Linked DNA regions of Homo sapiens. The protein of the gene in region 3 purifies or fractionates together with the protein of the main gene of each other region. This does not show direct contact. Each region holds a gene or a part of one and is shown on either strand. Other genes may lie near its edges. The genes, in order: RASA1, HAVCR2, ZAP70, CD5 and ACP1.

What was found.
Region 1: the proteins of ZAP70 (region 3) and RASA1 purify together in Homo sapiens (affinity purification with western blotting, with the first as the bait; one study listed by BioGRID). This does not show direct contact.
Region 2: the proteins of ZAP70 (region 3) and HAVCR2 purify together in Homo sapiens (co-immunoprecipitation; one study listed by IntAct). This does not show direct contact.
Region 4: the proteins of ZAP70 (region 3) and CD5 purify together in Homo sapiens (affinity purification with western blotting, with the first as the bait; one study listed by BioGRID). This does not show direct contact.
Region 5: the proteins of ZAP70 (region 3) and ACP1 purify together in Homo sapiens (affinity purification with western blotting, with the first as the bait; one study listed by BioGRID). This does not show direct contact.

The regions. Positions count from the first base shown.
Region 1 is NC_000005.10:87,375,875-87,379,393, reverse strand, and holds part of RASA1 (ras GTPase-activating protein 1), read right to left. Parts: intron 3,002-3,519; coding exon 2,829-3,001; intron 2,514-2,828; coding exon 2,354-2,513; intron 999-2,353; coding exon 856-998; intron 1-855. UniProt on the Homo sapiens protein: Inhibitory regulator of the Ras-cyclic AMP pathway. Stimulates the GTPase of normal but not oncogenic Ras p21; this stimulation may be further increased in the presence of NCK1.
Region 2 is NC_000005.10:157,088,685-157,092,059, reverse strand, and holds part of HAVCR2 (hepatitis A virus cellular receptor 2 precursor), read left to right. Parts: intron 1-3,082; coding exon 3,083-3,119; intron 3,120-3,375. UniProt on the Homo sapiens protein: Cell surface receptor implicated in modulating innate and adaptive immune responses. Generally accepted to have an inhibiting function.
Region 3 is NC_000002.12:97,730,566-97,734,084, reverse strand, and holds part of ZAP70 (tyrosine-protein kinase ZAP-70), read right to left. Parts: intron 1,203-3,519; coding exon 1,064-1,202; intron 961-1,063; coding exon 873-960; intron 789-872; coding exon 742-788; exon of another isoform or gene 542-741; coding exon 490-541; exon of another isoform or gene 1-489. UniProt on the Homo sapiens protein: Tyrosine kinase that plays an essential role in regulation of the adaptive immune response. Regulates motility, adhesion and cytokine expression of mature T-cells, as well as thymocyte development.
Region 4 is NC_000011.10:61,119,477-61,122,995, reverse strand, and holds part of CD5 (T-cell surface glycoprotein CD5 isoform 1 precursor), read right to left. Parts: coding exon 3,421-3,519; intron 1,386-3,420; coding exon 1,092-1,385; intron 90-1,091; coding exon 1-89. UniProt on the Homo sapiens protein: Lymphoid-specific receptor expressed by all T-cells and in a subset of B-cells known as B1a cells. Plays a role in the regulation of TCR and BCR signaling, thymocyte selection, T-cell effector differentiation and immune tolerance.
Region 5 is NC_000002.12:267,928-271,446, reverse strand, and holds part of ACP1 (low molecular weight phosphotyrosine protein phosphatase), read right to left. Parts: intron 1-3,519. UniProt on the Homo sapiens protein: Acts on tyrosine phosphorylated proteins, low-MW aryl phosphates and natural and synthetic acyl phosphates with differences in substrate specificity between isoform 1 and isoform 2.

The DNA.
Region 1 (3,519 bases), on a different chromosome or scaffold from region 3:
ACCTTTCTCAGAACTTTTCCTGTAACCCTTCTGATCTAGTGTCAGCAGAGTACATTTATCTATGGAAGTCGGAATTCCGTAGCCTATCTCTAAAGTCCAGAGACTCCCTACCTACCTGCTGCACTTCTGTGTCATCCTTATGTTAGGCCAACTATGGCATTACCCCACATTTCCAACATTAAATCACTAATTTCTTCCCTTCAAGTTATTAGTATGAATCGACACCTTCGTGCAGGATTAACATTTGCTAGGTCCCAGTGTCCATTGTCAAAAACAATTCCTTAAACTGATTTTTATATCAGATCTAATATATATTATTTCTTTGTAGTTGCTTTACCATTAAAATGAGAGAATATGTGTGTGAGATTCCACTTACTGTCTTAATAGTGTATTATGAATTTATACTGAAACTTTAATAATCCTAAAAAGATTTTTTTGTTTTAGTTGAGGTTATCTCATAATTCTCCCCTCGCAAAAAAACCTTCAAGAACAAACCAAGATGTAATGAAGTGCTACATAGGTTATATAATGAGTCACTAACAAAACCTTCAATTTATCTTATGCACGCTTTCTGTAAGTAGTATATAGATTATTAGTACAGTAGAGGAAATGACAAAGTATTTTCATGAATTTCTGGTGCAACTTGATGGTTTTTAATCCCAAAATAAAGTACATCTTTTTTAAGAAGTCCATTTTGCAGAACATTTTTATAAATGTATTACAGACAGGTGTAACTGCTATGAGGAATAATTTTAGAAATTTAATATATTTTCCTTAAAATGTAATTGGCTACAAATTATTACCTATTAAAATATGTTCTTTGCAAAAATACTTATTAAAACATTAAATTCTTACCTCACAAGACTGCTTGCTTTCCATTATCTTTAAAATAGAGTCTTTCAAAGCATGATGAACAAACTGTGTAGCAGTGGCTTTCATATACTGCTCCATCAAGGTGCTTGCAAGTGTTGTGGCTCGAAATAGGGTAGTGGCTTCATCTACACAAATATTTACATTAGAAGATTATTTGTAAAGGACTGACCTAATGTGACCAAATTGGAAATTAAGTGAATTCATTTTACCTCAACAGGAATAGCCACTTAAATGTGCTTTTTGCGTGCAGCGTTGAAAGTACTAATTACAATGACATCCTATACTTCTACAGACTTAACTCTGTAAGACTTTCATATGTATTACCTCATTAGATCATGAACAGAAGGGATTAACACTGCCATGTTCATATGGAAAAATGAAGACTCAGAATTGTTATATGACTTAAGATCAATTAGACAGCTAATGATAAAATTAGGACCATAAATCAGCTTTGCTGCCCATTGACCCCATGCTTTGAAATTTTAGGGTTTATTTACAATTAAGGATATAACACAAAATCCCAGTATAGATTAATTTATTAGCTTAAAATATGTCTACTGAGTTTCAGTAAAATTTTAATGAAATACAAATGCTGTCAGAAAAGATAAACTCAAGTGTAAAATAAGGACCACCATTTTATCTATTCCTTGACAAATCTATATTTTGTGATGAGGAGGAAAATAGTTCTAAACTTTACTATTTATTTGGGGAACCTAGAAGCAAGAACTGTTAATGAATCAAAGTGCTTGGTGGTGTGTGTGGGCCAGGGGGAGGGTGGATTATTTTGTAAGCCATTAAAAGCACTGTGTCCAGCAGCTTGGGAACTACCTATCTATAAAAGTTAGAAATAAAATGCAGCTGACACCCAGCTTCTGTGTAATGAAGAAGTAAAAATTAAACAAGACCTGTAACCCCGGCACTTTGGGAGGCTTGAGGCAGGCGGATCACCTGAAGTCAGGAGTTCAAGACCAGCCTGGCCAACATGGTGAAAACCCGTCTCTACTAAAAAAATAAAATAAAAAATTAGCTGGGTGTGGTGGCATATGCCTGTAGTCCCAGCTACTTAGGAGGCTGAGGCAGGAGAATCGCTTGAACCTGAGAGGTAGAGGTTGCAGTGAGCCGAGACTGCGCCACTGCACTGCAGCCTGGGCGACTGAGATGCCATCTCAAAAGAAAATAAAAAACAAGAGAATACAGATAAATATGCCAAACAGTCAAGCCATTGATGTAGACACAGATACCACCTTCTTGTGGCTTCTAGTACTTATCTGCCAAAACCTACATTAGAAATATCAGCTTCCCATAGTAACCAACATAATCAGAACTGACATCCAACTGCAATTTTTAAGGAGGGAAAACAGAATAACTTATTTTGCAATATAATTTAACAATTTAGTATATTCAGAGATAGAGTCCATATATCCTTGATATAAAATCTAAACCCAGTTTCTTGTATCACACTAACATGGCCATACCATACCTTCCATGCTTATTTCTCTGTCATTTAGTGTGCATAACAACAACGATTCAAGCTTTTCGTGAAGAAAAATCCTCAGTAGGATGCTGGCCAGTAGTGTTCGGTCTTGTCCACATACATGTGATAAAGCATAGACTACATGAAGTTCCTTTTGCAGTATAAGCTAAAATGACATTTTAAAAGATTGTTTAAAGTACGTAGCATTATAAGCATGCTCCATGAGACTAACAAGAAATATGTTCTTTCACAAGTTCTTATATTTAAAATGATGTCCCATTGAATAAATTTATTTAAAATAGAATGAATTCGTAGTCTACTTATTTCTACCAAAATTACAGTATAAAACAAGGTTTAAAATCTCTGGCATCATTGTGCTACTAAGCTATGAATTACTATGTTTACCTTAATGGATCTTTTATTAAATGTTAAATGTTTCTGTTAATTCCAACAAAAACAAGACTGATAAATAATTTAATACCTCTTTAAATTCACTGTACTCTTCTTCTGGCATGATTTTTTCCATAGAGTATCGTGCTCGAACACGCAGGGACCCTGGTTCAATACCTTTTAATGGTATATGGGAGCTGAGCAGAAACCATTCATCTGTGGCATGCCCTTTCTGTAATCGGCTCAACTGGCAGCGCATAAATACTTGGGAAGAAAAACAAGCAATTATTGTTTAAAAAGAGAACACGATAATTAGTCATGCAAGTAAATTTTCCTGGTGTTCAGTCTTCCCTATGGTGTTAAATGCTTTTCATTAAAGGAGTTTTCAGTAACATCACAAATTCAATATTTAGTTGTTTATTTACTGAGTGTCTACGGTGCACTAAACTCTGATAGGTAGAGAGTACAGAGATGATTGAGATGTGTTCTTTGAGTTGCATAGAGGTCAGTTTAGTCAAGAAGGCAAGAAATCAATTATGTTTCAGCACTGGTAAGTGCTGTTAACAGTGGTGAATGCTATTCGAGTACAGAGAAATAATATCTAATTCAGCCTGTGGAGGTGAAAACTCCACTTTAAACAGGTAACCCTTGAGCGGACGAGATCTAGAGGTGTAGCTAAGAAGAAAAGTAGTGAAAAAAGAAAAAAGAGCACTTCAAATATAAGGTATGGCCTTCGTTCTGTGTCATTACTATGGGGTTTGGATTTTATCGTAAAAGTAATG
Region 2 (3,375 bases), on a different chromosome or scaffold from region 3:
TTGTACACACACATATATGCCACTCCAAAAAAACATGGCTACTGAGAAGTACAGATAAGAAAGGCCTGTTTCATTTCCAATCTTTTCCCTGGAAGTTGCTGGAGAAAATATTAAAATCAAGGTGACAGCTTTTTAAGTCATGACCTCACAAAAACAAACTGACACTCAATAATGCCCCACAATCTTCCATCTTTCTAGTGTACTCTCTGAGATGACCATCCATACCTCACTGCTGCTCAAAACTTCTTTGCCCCTCTCCTAACTGATGAAATATGAAAGGGCTTTTTAATCTCCATTGCCTAGGCCAAGACTTCATCCTTCTTTTTATCCCTTTCTTCTGAGTCATCTCTCTCCTTTTCTGTTTATGCTATTTTCATTAGCAGAATATATGTTCTAGTCCATGCATTCCTCTCCAGCTAGTCCCATTTCTCAACTCGTTCTCACAGCCATATTTTTCAAAGGAGTTGTCTCTACTTTTCACCCATCTACACTCCTTGACCCACCATCATCTAGTTTCTGCTCCAAAGCACAACGGAAATGGTCAAGCTCACCACTGACCTTCAGTTTTCTAAATTAAATATTAACAGATACCTTTATCTTTTTTTTTTTTTTTGAGACAGAGTTTCACTCTTGTTGCTTAGGCTGGAGTGCAATGGTGCAATCTTGGCTCACTGCAACCTCTGCCTCCCCGGGTTCAAGTGATTCTCCCCCCTCAGCCTCCTGAGTAGCTGGGATTTCATGCATGTGCCGCCATGCCTGGCTAATTTTGTATTTTTAGTAGAGACGGGGGTTTCACCATGTTGGCCAGGCTGGTCTCAAACTCTTGACCTCAGATGATCTGCCCGCCTTGGCCTCCCAAAGTGCTGGGATTATAGGCGTGAGCCACCGTTCCCAGCCTGATACCTTTATCTTTATTATAGTCAACCTTTTAAATTGATCACTCATTCTAGAAAGTCCTCCTTCTCTTGGCTTCTGAAATGACATTCTTCTCTTTGATCCATTGCTTTTCAGATCTTCTTCTGCCTGATCCTTAGATGTTGAGATTCCTTAGGGCTGGGTATGGTGGTGCACGCCTATCGTCCCAGCTACTCAGGAGAATGAAGCAGGAAGATCACTTGAGCCCAGGAGTTTGAGGCTATGAACTATGATCTTGCTGCTGCATTCTAGCCTGGGTGACACAGCACAGGGAGACCCTGTCTCAGAGAAAAACAACAACAGAAGATTCCTGCAGTCTTCCTCCAACATACATCTAAAGTGTTTTCATTATTCTGCATCTCTTTTGGCCATTCCTTACTCCAAGACACCATTATTTCTACTTAATTTATCTTCTCATTTCTTTATTCCTCCTTCGAATCCAATATTAAAACCCAAATCAATGTCTGAGCACAATGGCTCATGCCTATAATCCTAACACTTCGGGAGGCCAAGACAGGAGAGTCACTTGAGGCCAGGAGTTTGAGACTAGCCTGGGCAACATATTGAGATTCACCCAGGCTGGAGTGCAGTGGTGTGATCATGGCTCACTGCAACCTCTACCTCCCGAGTTCAAGCAACTCTCCTGCCTCAGCCTCCAAGTAGCTAGGACCACGGGCATGTGCCAGCATACCTGGCTAGTTTTTGTATTTTTAGTAGAGATGAGGTTTTACCATGTTGCCCAGGCTGGTCTCGAACTCCCAAGCTCAAGAAATCCACCTGCCTTGCCTCCCAAAGTGCTAGGATTACAGGCGTGAGCCACTGCATCCAGCCCAAAAACATTAAAAAAAATTATCCAGCTGTGGTAGTGTGCACCTATAGTTCTAGCTACTCAGAAGCTGAGATGGGTAGATCCCTTGAGCCCAGGAGTTCAAAGTTGCAATCAGATATGATCTTACTACTGCATTCCAGCCTGGCCAACAGAGCAAGACCCTGTCTCAAAAAAAAAAAAAAAAAAAAAAAAAGAAAAGAAAAGAAAGGAAAATTTTAAGTTTCAAATTTTTGAAACTGCATCCCCAGAAGACACCTTGAAAGACCTTGATCCAGAGGTACCCAGTAAGCCACACCTGGATTCCTGACCCACAACACAGAAATGATGAGATAACGTAGTTGTTTTCAGCGGGTAAAAGAAACCCAAAACAAATAAGGATCACATCTCTGCCCTTCAAGGAAATCTAAGGTTTCCTACAGGTCTTAGAATAAAATCCAGACTCCTGATTATGGCTGGAAAGGTCTTATTGGACCTAGCCCCAGCCTACCTTTCAGACCTTATCTTGGGCCGCTCCCTTAATCCAGCCACGTTTTCAGTTTCAGGTACTCAGCAAGATCTTTACAAGGGGCTCCCTCATCCTGGAATGCTCCTTCTGGCTCTTTACTTGGCTGACTCATTTCAGAAACGAGCTTAAAGTTCATCTCTGAGGGTCCTTCCCTGACCACCCTCTCTATTATCTGTTTCACTATGATGTTGGTTTCCTTTATAATACATCATAATTTGAAATTATTTTGTTTTCCTATTTACTATTTCCTTTTTGTTGTTGTTTTTTTTTTTTTGAGACGGAGTTTCGCTCTCGTTGCCCAGGCTGGAGTGCAATGGCGCAATCTTGGCTCACCGCAACCTCCGTCTCCCGGGTTCATGTGATTCTCCTGCCTCAGCCTCCCGAGTAGCTGGGATTACAGGCATGGGCCACCACATCCAGCTAATTTTGTATTTTTAGTAGAGACGGGGTTTCTCCATGTTGGTCAGGCTGGTCTTGGGTCTGGGGTACTGTTTTCTTTTATTTCTTTGGTCTCCCACAGGAGAGCGTGAGCTTCGTGAAATTAGGGCTCACAATTCACTTTTATGTTCCTGTGTTCCTTGTGCCAGGCAAACTGCCAGACACATAGTAGAGGTCTCATAATATTTGTTAAATAAGAAAAATGCATCTTTATTATTATTTTCTAACACAGTCCATATAACTATCTAAGGCACACGTTGAGAGTTTCATTTAACTCAATCTGAGATGAGACCAGATTTCCCTAAACTATGCGTGCTTCCAGTGAACCTATTTGATTTCTTGTCTCATTTATTTTATGAATGCATTTTTATTGGCTTTTGTTTCCCCCTTACTAGGGTATTCTCATAGCAAAGAGAAGATACAGAATTTAAGGTAAGAATAATGGAATGGGGTTGGGAAAAGGTGAGAATCTTGGAAGTCCCTACTCTAACATGTCTGATCTTTTCTCTGAGAAATCCTGTCCTGGGGCTTTGAGATCTGAGTTTATACTTCCTTCTTTCTCTAGGTCTAGTTATGAAGTGAAAATGTAACATGCTACTGTGTGTACTTCCTGACACCTCTAGCTTCTTTAGTTCTAAAGTTAAGGTATAGAATTTATCACCCTAATAATACAACATGCTTATTCATC
Region 3 (3,519 bases):
CACCCATGAGAAACAGGAGCACCCGCAGCAGACCATTTTAGGAATGTGAGCTCTGGGGCCCATCGTGGGTTCACATCCCGCCTCTACCACTGCCTCACATCCCCATAGACAGACCCCTCCCTCTCTCATCTGTAAAGTGAGGTTAATCACCATAGCCACTTCATAAGGCATGTCAGGAGGGTTCGGTGGCTCATACACACAGTGACCTCGGAACGTGACTGACACATAGTAGGTACTCAACAAACGTGTGTCTGGGGAGCCTCAGGCAAGGCCAAGTGTGCTCCCTGCACGTCAGTACACACTGGGACGTACATGTGCACAGGCAGGTGTGATGGGTGTGGGCACATGTGTGCACAGGTGTTAACCAAGCCAACTGCCACAGCCTGGCCCGGCCCACAGCGCCCCCCGTGAAACCCCACAGCCCTGACAGCGACCCTGATCTCGGCTCAGCATGAGCCCCAACCCGCGTCCCCACCTCTGCCCGCTCACCTGGCTCAGGGGTGTATCCATCTGAGTTGAGGGTGTCGATTCGTCTCTGAGGCTAAAGGCCACAGGGTCAGCAAGGCCTGAGCTGGGGACGTCCAGCCCCTCTCATGAGACCTATATCCACTGAGGACTCCCAGAGACAGTGGAGAGAGAGCTTCTTCCGCTCCACAGGCACCCCAGCCTCCATCCCAGCCTCCCCCACAGCCACTCCCCAGCTCCATCCCCAAGGCCACACTCCAGGTGCCCCCAACTCACATGAGTCAACGTGGATGGGTGGGCTGGGAGTGTGGGAGCAGCAGCCCCTGGGGGAGCAGAAGGGACAGTGAGGGCTGGGGGCCAGGTCTCCTGCCGCCCCCGCCCACCGCCCGCCCGCCTGCTGCCGTCACCTGAGGCGTTGCTGGCACTGCTGTTGGGGCAGGCCTCCTTCAGGCAGTAGATGAGCCCGTCCGCCTTCAGCTTCAGATACTCCACCAGCTGCAGGGAGCAGGCAGCTAGCAGAGAGGCTCCTCTCCTCCCCAGAGCCCGGCACCCCATCTGAGCACGGCATCTCCCAGAACAAGTTGCACGGGCAGCCTACCTGCCAGAGCGTGTCAAACTTGGTGCCCTCGGGAATGCAGTACTTGCCCGCCTTGTCTTGGCTGATGAGGTAGTGGTACACCGTCTTCCCATAGATGAGGGACAGGGCGTATGTGCCCTGCTCCTTCCGCGGCCTCAGCCTGGCAGGGGAAGGGAGGGGATGTAACCCCTAGAGCCACCTGGGGGCCTCCTGCTGTGCCCCGGTTCCCCCGCAACACACCCTATGGGCTCCACACCTCAGAGCCTTGCAGAGAAGCTGCAGGGACTGGGGAAGCCAGGCCAGGCCCCCATCACCTCCAGATCTGCTGATGATGGGCCAAGTGGCAGAGGGCGGTGGAGGGGCCATGGCTGTGTTCCCAGGAAAATGCACTGTTCTCCAAGAGCCAACAGATGGCCATTCACGGGGAATACCTGACCCCCCACGGTGGACACCCAGCCACGGAGGAGGGGACACCCATCCACTGGGGAACACCTGGTCCCCCATGGCTGAACAGTTGGCCATCCACGGCCAGACACTTGCCATCCACAGAGAGATAGTCATCCACAGGCACTCATTGGGGGTACACTCGGCCATACAGTCAGCCAACCATGGGGGGCACTTGGCCTTCTACAACAGACCCAGAGCCTTCAACAGGTAGACCTAGCACCATTCTCCTGGGGAGAGAAAGCCTTTTCCACACAGACCCACACAGGTAGGCGCAGCTCCATGACAAGCTTACAGGGCACCCCTGTGCAAATCAAAACAAGTCACTTTCTCATCACGAGACTGACCAGTTCCATAATAGATGGACCTTTCCTAGAATGAGACCCTCGATTGCCTTCTGCTGGAATTTTGTCAATATAAATATATAAATCTTCCATGTCTATGATGGGAATTGAGCCCCTCAAAGGTGGTGCATTTGTGGGGTAAGAAACTGTCCCCCCATCCGCTCCAGCCCTGAGTACACACATCCCCCCTCAACACAGACCAACTTAGTGTCAGACACCGGCACCCTCGCATGAAGCCCCACAGTGACACCAGTCAGCATCCCCCACACAACAGTTTTGTCTGGGGTCACTGGCACAAGCCTCTATTGCAGGGTCAAGTGTAGCTTTACAGTGAGGAGGGAGGGCAGCTGGCCCCGTGGAAGCTGTGGAGGCCGGAAGCAGCCGACTCCTGATCTCAGGGATTGCACTGCACTACAGAAGAGCCCTTGTGATGGCCTGCGAGCTGCACCCTCCAAGGTGCAAATTCTCAGACCAGGCCTGGCCCTGCCTGTGGATGTTCATTCACTGGACAAGTCTTTACTGACAGGCCAGGCACTGTTCTCAGCGCAGGGATATGGCAGTGAGCAAGGCAGCCATGGGCCCACCTTGCAATAAGGCCCTTCCTTAGGAAATGTCCCCTGAGTGAGGGAGAGAGGTGCAGCTGTGACCATCCTCTCCATTCCTGGACAGCACGTTCCCCGAAGTACAGTGCAGTGAAGGGTGGGGCAGTTCCCAGGCTAGCCCACAACAGTCTGGAGATAACATGGAGAGATGGGAAATCAGGGCGGGGGCAATGAGGGCACACAAAAGGGCAAGGAAGAGAACCCACCACAAATTAGGAAACAAACATCCCACAGAGACAGTAGGCTGGGACAGCAGATGCAGCGCCGTCACGTGAAACCCCGCAGTGACACCAGTCAACATCTCCCACAAAACATTTCTATTTTGAGTCACTGGCACAAGCTCCTGTTAAGTGCAGCTTTCCAGTGAGGAGGGAGGGCTATTGGCCCTGGGGGTCTCAGAGCTGTGGAAGTCAGAGGCAGGTGGCAGGCTGGCCTGGAGGTGATGGTCTCCAGGGACTGTGAGAAGTGAAAACACCTCCTAAGGGTCACAACCTGAAGTTTTAAACTGACAACAGAGACTCCATGCCAAGCCACTCACCAGCAAACAGCAAACCTCCCATCTCCCCTCCTCTGTCTCTTTTTTTTTTTTTTTTTTTTTGAGACCGAGTCTCGCTCCACAGCCCGGGCTGGAGTGCAGTGGCGTGATCTCGGCTCACTGCAAGCTCTGCCTCCTGGGTCCATGCCATTCTCCTGCCTCAGCCTCCCAAGTAGCTGGGACTGCAGGTGCACACCACCACGCCCAGCTAATTTTTTGTATTTTTAGTAGAGATGGGGTTTCACTGTGTTAGATAGGATGGTCTCAATCTTCTGACCTCGTGATCCACCTGCCTCGGCCTCCCAAAGTGCTGGGATTACAGGCGTGAGCCACCAAGTCTGTCTGTCTCTTTCATTCTTTCTTCTAGAACTAATAATTTCCTCCTTATTTGTTTATTTAAACTTCCATGTGGAATACTGGGGGAAAACAGCCACAATATTAGGGAGCTCTTCCCATCAATAGGTGGGGCCTCCTCCTCTGTCTTCTGAATCAGGGCTTGACCATGTGCCTTGCTAACAGGACATTAGCAAACATGACACAAGCAGAGGCTTG
Region 4 (3,519 bases), on a different chromosome or scaffold from region 3:
CACGACCAGCAGCACCACCAGGAGCACCAGGGCCAGGATGATGCTTGCCACCGTGCCTGCGGCCAGGCCTGCGGGGTTTGGATCCTGGCCTGGGGAAGGAGGAAGAGTTAGGTCAGTCCCAGTCCTGGGGGGAGAAAAACTGTGGGAGGGAAGCTGCTGGCTGCCTGGCTTCCGCCGTCATCCTTGCTCATCTGAGAAATTCACCAGCATGCACGGAAGGCAATGATCTATTTGGCTATCCCTCCATCTATCTCTAGGATTCCCTGCTACCCACTCACCCACCCACCATTTGTCATCTAACAGTTGATCATCTAGCTATCATTTGCCACACTTGTTATAAGCTATTTAATTTTCTACCATTTGCCAGTTATTAGTGATCACCTTGCCATCATATACCATCAGAAACCAATATATGATTGCATACCAATAGCCAGCGGGGCCTCTATTCTTGATCCATCCATCCATCTGTCCATCCGCCCTTCTGTCCATCCATCCATCCATCCATCCACTCACCCATCCATCAGTCCACTCATCCATCCATCCATCCAACCATCCATCCATCCACCCACCCACTGATCCATCCATCCATCCATCCATCCATCCATCCATCCATCCATCCATCATCCATCCACCCACCCACCGATCCATCCATCCATCCATCCATCCATCCATCCATCCATCCACCCACCCACCCACCCACCCACCAATCCATCCATCCATCCATCCATCCATTTCTCTCTTTTACTTCCCGTTTAGTTACCATTCATGTAGCAAATATGTGCTATCTACCATTTGATTTTCTGGCTTCCACCTTGCAAAAGTAGAAGGTAGAAGGAGAAGTTCTATGACTCATCAGCTGCCTGACAGTGATCTGCCTGTTGCTTGCCCTGTCTCCTATTATTGTTCATGCCCATTGCTGTCTGAGTACTCTTGCTCCCTAGCCTTCCAATTTCCCTGTCTCCATCCTTTCTGGGTCTCTGGGACTCTCTGTCTAGCTCCCCAGGGCTTCCCTTTAGAGACATGCACCCTGACCGGGTCCTAGAGGTAAAGTAGTAACTGCTTCCACCCACTGTGGGCTGTGGCCAACTCACATGTGACAAACACCTTCTTGCAGTAGGAATTTCTCTCCCAAAGTTCGTGGCACTGGGACAGCTTCTGATGGGGACAGAAGAGCCCCCGGGATGTTGGGTCACCAGCGTCCAGCACTCGATAGGAGTTGACGCTGCCACACTGCTGCTCCCGGCACACCTCCTCCCACCGCAGCGAGCTCCTGGCTGAAGAGCTGTCACACAGGGCTGCCCACTGAGCCCCCTGGCGCACCTCCACGGTGCCTTCACAGATGCTGCTGCCCCCCACCAGACGGCTCTGCACCTTGGGCTGGAAACCTGAGAGGGGAAGCAATGGGAAAGGAGGGTGCAAGTGTGAACCTGAGCCTGTGTGCTGCTTCCTGGGGCCCCATGCCACTGGCAAATCGGGGCCCTGGCTAGGGGAAGGCACTGTGTGGGACCACCAGGAGAGGCAGCCTTCTTTTCTGCCCTTCCCTCCTTCTGGCACCCTCTGTGGCTCTTCCCCTGACCCAGCACTGTCTCTGGTGCCTCTGGGCAGCTGCCAGCACCATCCTGAGACACAGCAGCATAGGCGCTTTCTGCAGGGAGGCTGTTGGCAGCCACCAGCAGGGAGTCGGCTCCATGCCAGGTGGAGATAAGAGAAGAGCGTGGGAAATAGGCTCCACCTAGGTCCACTTCTCACTTGGAAACATCTTGTCATTATCCCGCTGCACTTTGGGAAGAAGGAGGACTTTTCAGAAGAGGGAAACTGAGGCCTGGGGGTTGGAAAGACCTACTGCCCTGAGTCCTGGCAGTTCACAGTTGGGACAGATCGTGCTGCCCAGGCACTGAACGCTGAGGGCCAGGCTTTCAGCAAGTGGGGCCTGGCTCAACAGAGGCACACATTTATTTCTGCCTGCCAGGGTGGGGCCTGGGAGTCTGTAGCTGAGGCCCACACATGCTCAGTTTAGAGAGAGTTGTGATCTCACCAGCTTTGCCCAGTTCCCATAGCAACATCCACCTTCAAAGCCCTAGTAAATCTATTTAGAAGAAGCTTCAAAGGCAAGAACCCTGGGTATGGTTTTACAGGTTGTAGCCTGCAGGAAGGATAGTAGCTGAGGGGCCGGTGGGACTGCGAGCCAGCCCCTGCTCTCCTCATCAGGCCAAGAGCCCCTTGGGAGCTGCTTCTGCTGGGGGAGGGGCAGCATTTTACTAATTTACACCAGGTACCCAGCGTGCTTGCAGGACAGCCAGGTGGCCCCGAGCAGTGATTCCTAGATTTGTGCACATAAATCACTGAGGACCTTGCTGAAAAGTGGATTCTGATTCGGAAGGTCCAGGCTGGGGCCTGAGCACCTGCATTTCTAACCAGCTGCTGCTGTTCCAGGACCACACTGAGTCACCAAGGCTCAGATAACAGGCTCTAGAGTGACCCTGCTTGAACAGAAATCCCAGCAAGTGCTCCATAGTACTGGGCGAGAGGTTTAGCCTCTCTAAACCTCAGCCTCCTCACTGTAAAAAGGGATGATAATAATAACACCCACCTCCTAAGGCCATGTGAAAAATTTAGAATGTCCAGGAATGGTCCCTGCATGAAGTAAGCTCTCGGTAAGTACAGTGTGGACTTCACTGAGAACACTTCCGGCCATGGGAACCCACTACTTCCGGAGGGAGGCGTACTGCGAAGTTTCTCCGTTTCTCCCTTCGTTTCAGCTGTGGTTTCTTCCCTTTAGTTTTCTTCATTGATCCTGGTTTGGCCCACCGGGGTCTCACAGACTCAGTCTCACCTGCCTCCTCCCCTCAACCACACAGCGGCATCATTCTCTTTACCTTGTCAGCACACGGCGCAGGACCCTCTGCAGAGCCCTCTTGGGGGCTGTCTCTGTTTCTCTCTTTGCCTGCTGTCCTCTGACTCCCGGGCCTCAGGGACCTCCCACCTCTCACCATTGCTGCAATGCCAACTCTTGGGATTTACAAATGCCCTTCCTGCAAGGCCCACCCCTCCAAGTGCCCCATCTTTGGCACAAGCCATAATTCCTACCTAGACATTTTTTTTTCTCCCCCAGACCCACGAAGAGACCTTGCCTCCTCCTGGAAGTCCTGCCGACTCCCCTTCCCCATGTGGCAGCTGAGCCAGCGGTTCCTTTGGGCTTGGGGTGTGTAGCTTTGCAGAGATTACCAAGGCATTGAGTGTGGATGCATCCTCCCCACCCCAACCCTTGTTACCTCTTAGAGGCCAAGACCAGGCCTCCACTTCCCTTGTATTCTCCATAGTGCCCTGTGCTGCACACATGTTCCCTGACCTTCTGGGATGCTCTGTGACCCCACCTAGGGCAGCAGAAGGTGTCATGGGGCTTGGCCAGGTCTCACTTACCTGAGCAAAGGAGGGCAAGAACTCGGCCACTTTTCTGGGGCTTGATTTTCCTGAAGCAATGCTCCAGGGAGGTACAGCTTGAGTTCTGGATCTTCCATT
Region 5 (3,519 bases), about 97 Mb from region 3:
GGACACCCTCCCACCCCTACCCAGTATACCAAAACGTGCATACTCAGGTCCTATAGTTGGCCCCTGAGAATGTGGAGCCCAAGTATAGGAAAAGTCAGCCCTCCATACAGATGGGTTTCTCATTCAGACAACACGGTATTTTCCATCTGTGCTTGATTAAAAAAATTCCTCGAATAAATCCTTCAAAGTTCAAACCCCTGTGGCTGAAGGGTCAACTGTATGTATTTTCAAGTATATCACACATAAGGATGACTACTGTTTCACAAAACAATACACAAACACACAAACATGCATTTAAGCATAAACAGCGATTCAACACCAACATTTACTGAGCGATCACATGCAAAGCCCTGAGCCCAGGGATACAGATCCAGGCATTAGCAGCCCAAGGTCAGGGACACCACTCTCCAGACCACGATGTCGACATCAGGGCCATCCTTACTTTAGACCAGCAAGTGAGAAATCCAGGTTCCCCAGGGCTCCCTCAGGTTTGATAATTCCCTAGAATTACTCCCCAAACTCAGGAAAGCAGAACACTTACCATTACAATTTCATTATAGTAACAGCAACAAAAACAAAAACAAACAAACAAACAAAACAGCCAAAGCAAGTGACCTATAGGGCACATTCTGGGAGGTTCCCTAACAGGTAGCTCCACTGTCCTCTGGGACACCTTACTCTCCTGTCATCAACATGAGACAATATTCAAAGAGCACTGCCAACCCAGGAAGCTCCTCAGAGCCATAGTGCTCTGAGGTTTTATTGGGGTTTTCGGAGGGAGACACAATGGGTTGAATCACTGGCCATTCAGCTGAACTCTATCTCCACTTTATTTATTATATTTATTATAATAAAAGTGGGAAAATGAATGCTGATAAACAATACACTACAGCAGCACAGAAAAAGAACGATGCTACAAAGCAAAAACAAGATATAAGAAAATTTCTTACCAGAAAAAAGAAAGATTAGAGATGATATTAAAAGGATGATCAGGATCTTAATGGACAGAGGAAGGGAAAGGCATTTAACTCAGAGGGATTGTGGCACTAAGCAGGTGAGGCTGCGATGCTTCAGGTACAGAGAGCCAGTGTCTGGAAACTGACGGGCTGGTATACAGGAGCCCTAAAACACTGGGCCAACATTTGAACTTTGCGTAGCCACTATGAGGAGAAATAGAAAGTCCTATGGAAAAGGGTAATATGACTTATTCAACAAACATATTTTGTATGCCAACTCTATGTGCCAAGCACTGTGCCCTAACCTGAAGACAGAAAGTTGTTTAAAACACAGACCCTTCCTACAAGTTACCAAAATTACCGGCACAGCTAAGGAAACACTAGAAGAGCACATGACTGAATTGGAGAGACCTTGTAAGAGGCTCGTATGAAGGAGCAAATACAAGACAGTGTCAGAGTGGAAAGGTGTGGCAGCTTTCCTCACCCATCATAAAGGTCATGGAAGATACTCCTGTAACAAAAGACAGGTTAACAAGAGCCTTCAGAAATGAAGACCCAAAGACCCAGGGAAACGGTTTTGATGCTTAGATGACCAATGCACAGCTGTGTAGAAATGGCACTGGACAAAAGGAAATGATCCAATGGTAGCAGACTGAGGGAAACCCAGCAGGGCCACAGCATTTCCTCCCCCAGGAATGAGGCAGGGCCCCTCTGAAATGCTGTCTTCAAGAGAAGGCAAAAGGGAGAGAGTGATCTTTCTAGGTTTTATGGCTTGCTTTGCAGGAGAGGAGTTCTAGTTTCTATGATCTGCGCTGGGGAAGATAAATGATGGTTTCTACGACCTTGCTTCTGGGGCTGCTCTGAGGCCTTCCAGTCTCCTTAATGCCAAAGCACCACACTGAGTCCAGACATTAGGAGCTGAATTTAGGAAACAGATACGAAAAAGAGGAACTGTGAGAATAGGCAGCACTAACTAAGAGTTTACTCTTTATCACTATTAGGGTCTTCTGTTTATGATAAACAAATACAATGAGGATCTTCTAGTGTTGTAAAACACAGCTAATTCCCTAGTTCAGAAAACCAACTCACTGCCTTACTACAGCCTTCAGTTTCTACATTGTAAGACCTAAGCATATTACGTACTTTTTTCCCACAGAGACTGTAGTTTCCACAGCAGTAAAAAATCTTACCTACAAACCATAAAGGGAAAGACAACAAATTAGCCTTGAATACCCTCTATATGCTAATTTGTGTTGTGAAGTTTTTCCTTTCGACATTCTAAATTTTGTTTAGTTTTCTAAACAGGTATTGTCATCAGCACTATTTTAATTATTGAAAGGCTTCCCATGGGTGTGTAACTCTTTTACTTGTCACCATATACCCTGGGAATATTTTTAACAGCAAACATTGTATTCCAAATTAAGACAATTATTATTTTGGATCTGTAGAACAACAGATGCCTAGTATCTCAGCATCTAAAAATATAATAAAGACTAGCCCCACACGTTTACAAATAATTATCTTTAACTGTAAAATAACAGCTTACTTTCCCCACAACAATATGAAAACTTGCATTATTAACTGTCCTAAAGGCTAGCAGTAGCTTGCCCTGTTGATTTCGAAAGTTGATGCCACCAAATTTTGTTATGAAAAAATGGAGCACCCCGGTCATCAGTGAAACACTGCATGTACTTCAGGTTTCGCCTATCAAACAAGTTCTAAAAACAGAACATTCCATCTTCAAATGCCTTTAAAAAATGTTTCAATCTGTAAAGTCTCAAGTTTGTCTTTTCCAAATTAGGCAGACTATTTTATACCCTTCTTCAGCATCTTCAATTCAAGGATGGAGACTCATAAAAGGCAGATAGGCTCTGGGAGGGTGGGGCTGTGTCTGCTATACCTGGTAAGAGACCCAGCACCCAGTATGGGTGTAGCCCAGAAGTAAAGTGACTCCACCAGCATGTGCTATCTCCACCAACCATGCTGGCTGGGTCATGGCTCCTGCATCATCTTCACTAATAAGTCTCTATTGCAAAAACATAAAGCACCCTTCATAATTGTGCTGTAGTAAGGAGCTCAATTATTTTCCATCATTAGCTTCACCAATGAAAAACCTCTGATGCTTTTCTACACTTCAATCTCAATAGGGTCCAAACAAATGCTTTGAATGAACAAAGTTTTTTACATTTCAAAAGCATACAACTCTTACTGTCCTCTATATGGCTACCAAGTAAAATGCCATTTACCGCTCAAATTCCCTCAGAATGCAACCAGTAAAGGCATGCTCCACCTCCAGTTTCATCTCAAAACAACAGCTGAAACTCTTCTTTTTTAAACTTAAATTTGATCACTTCCCACCTCTGCTCAAAACCCTCCAATGTTTATTCAGAGTAAGCCCAAGTCTTCACATGGCCTCCCAAGATCTGGACCTAAAACAGGGGTCTGAAAATCGGCTCATGGTCCACTGCCTTTATGTACAGCCCACAGCGGTAAGAATAATTTTTACATTGTTGAGTAGTTGGAAAAAATCTAAAAGTAGAGTACCTTGTGACATGTGAAAATT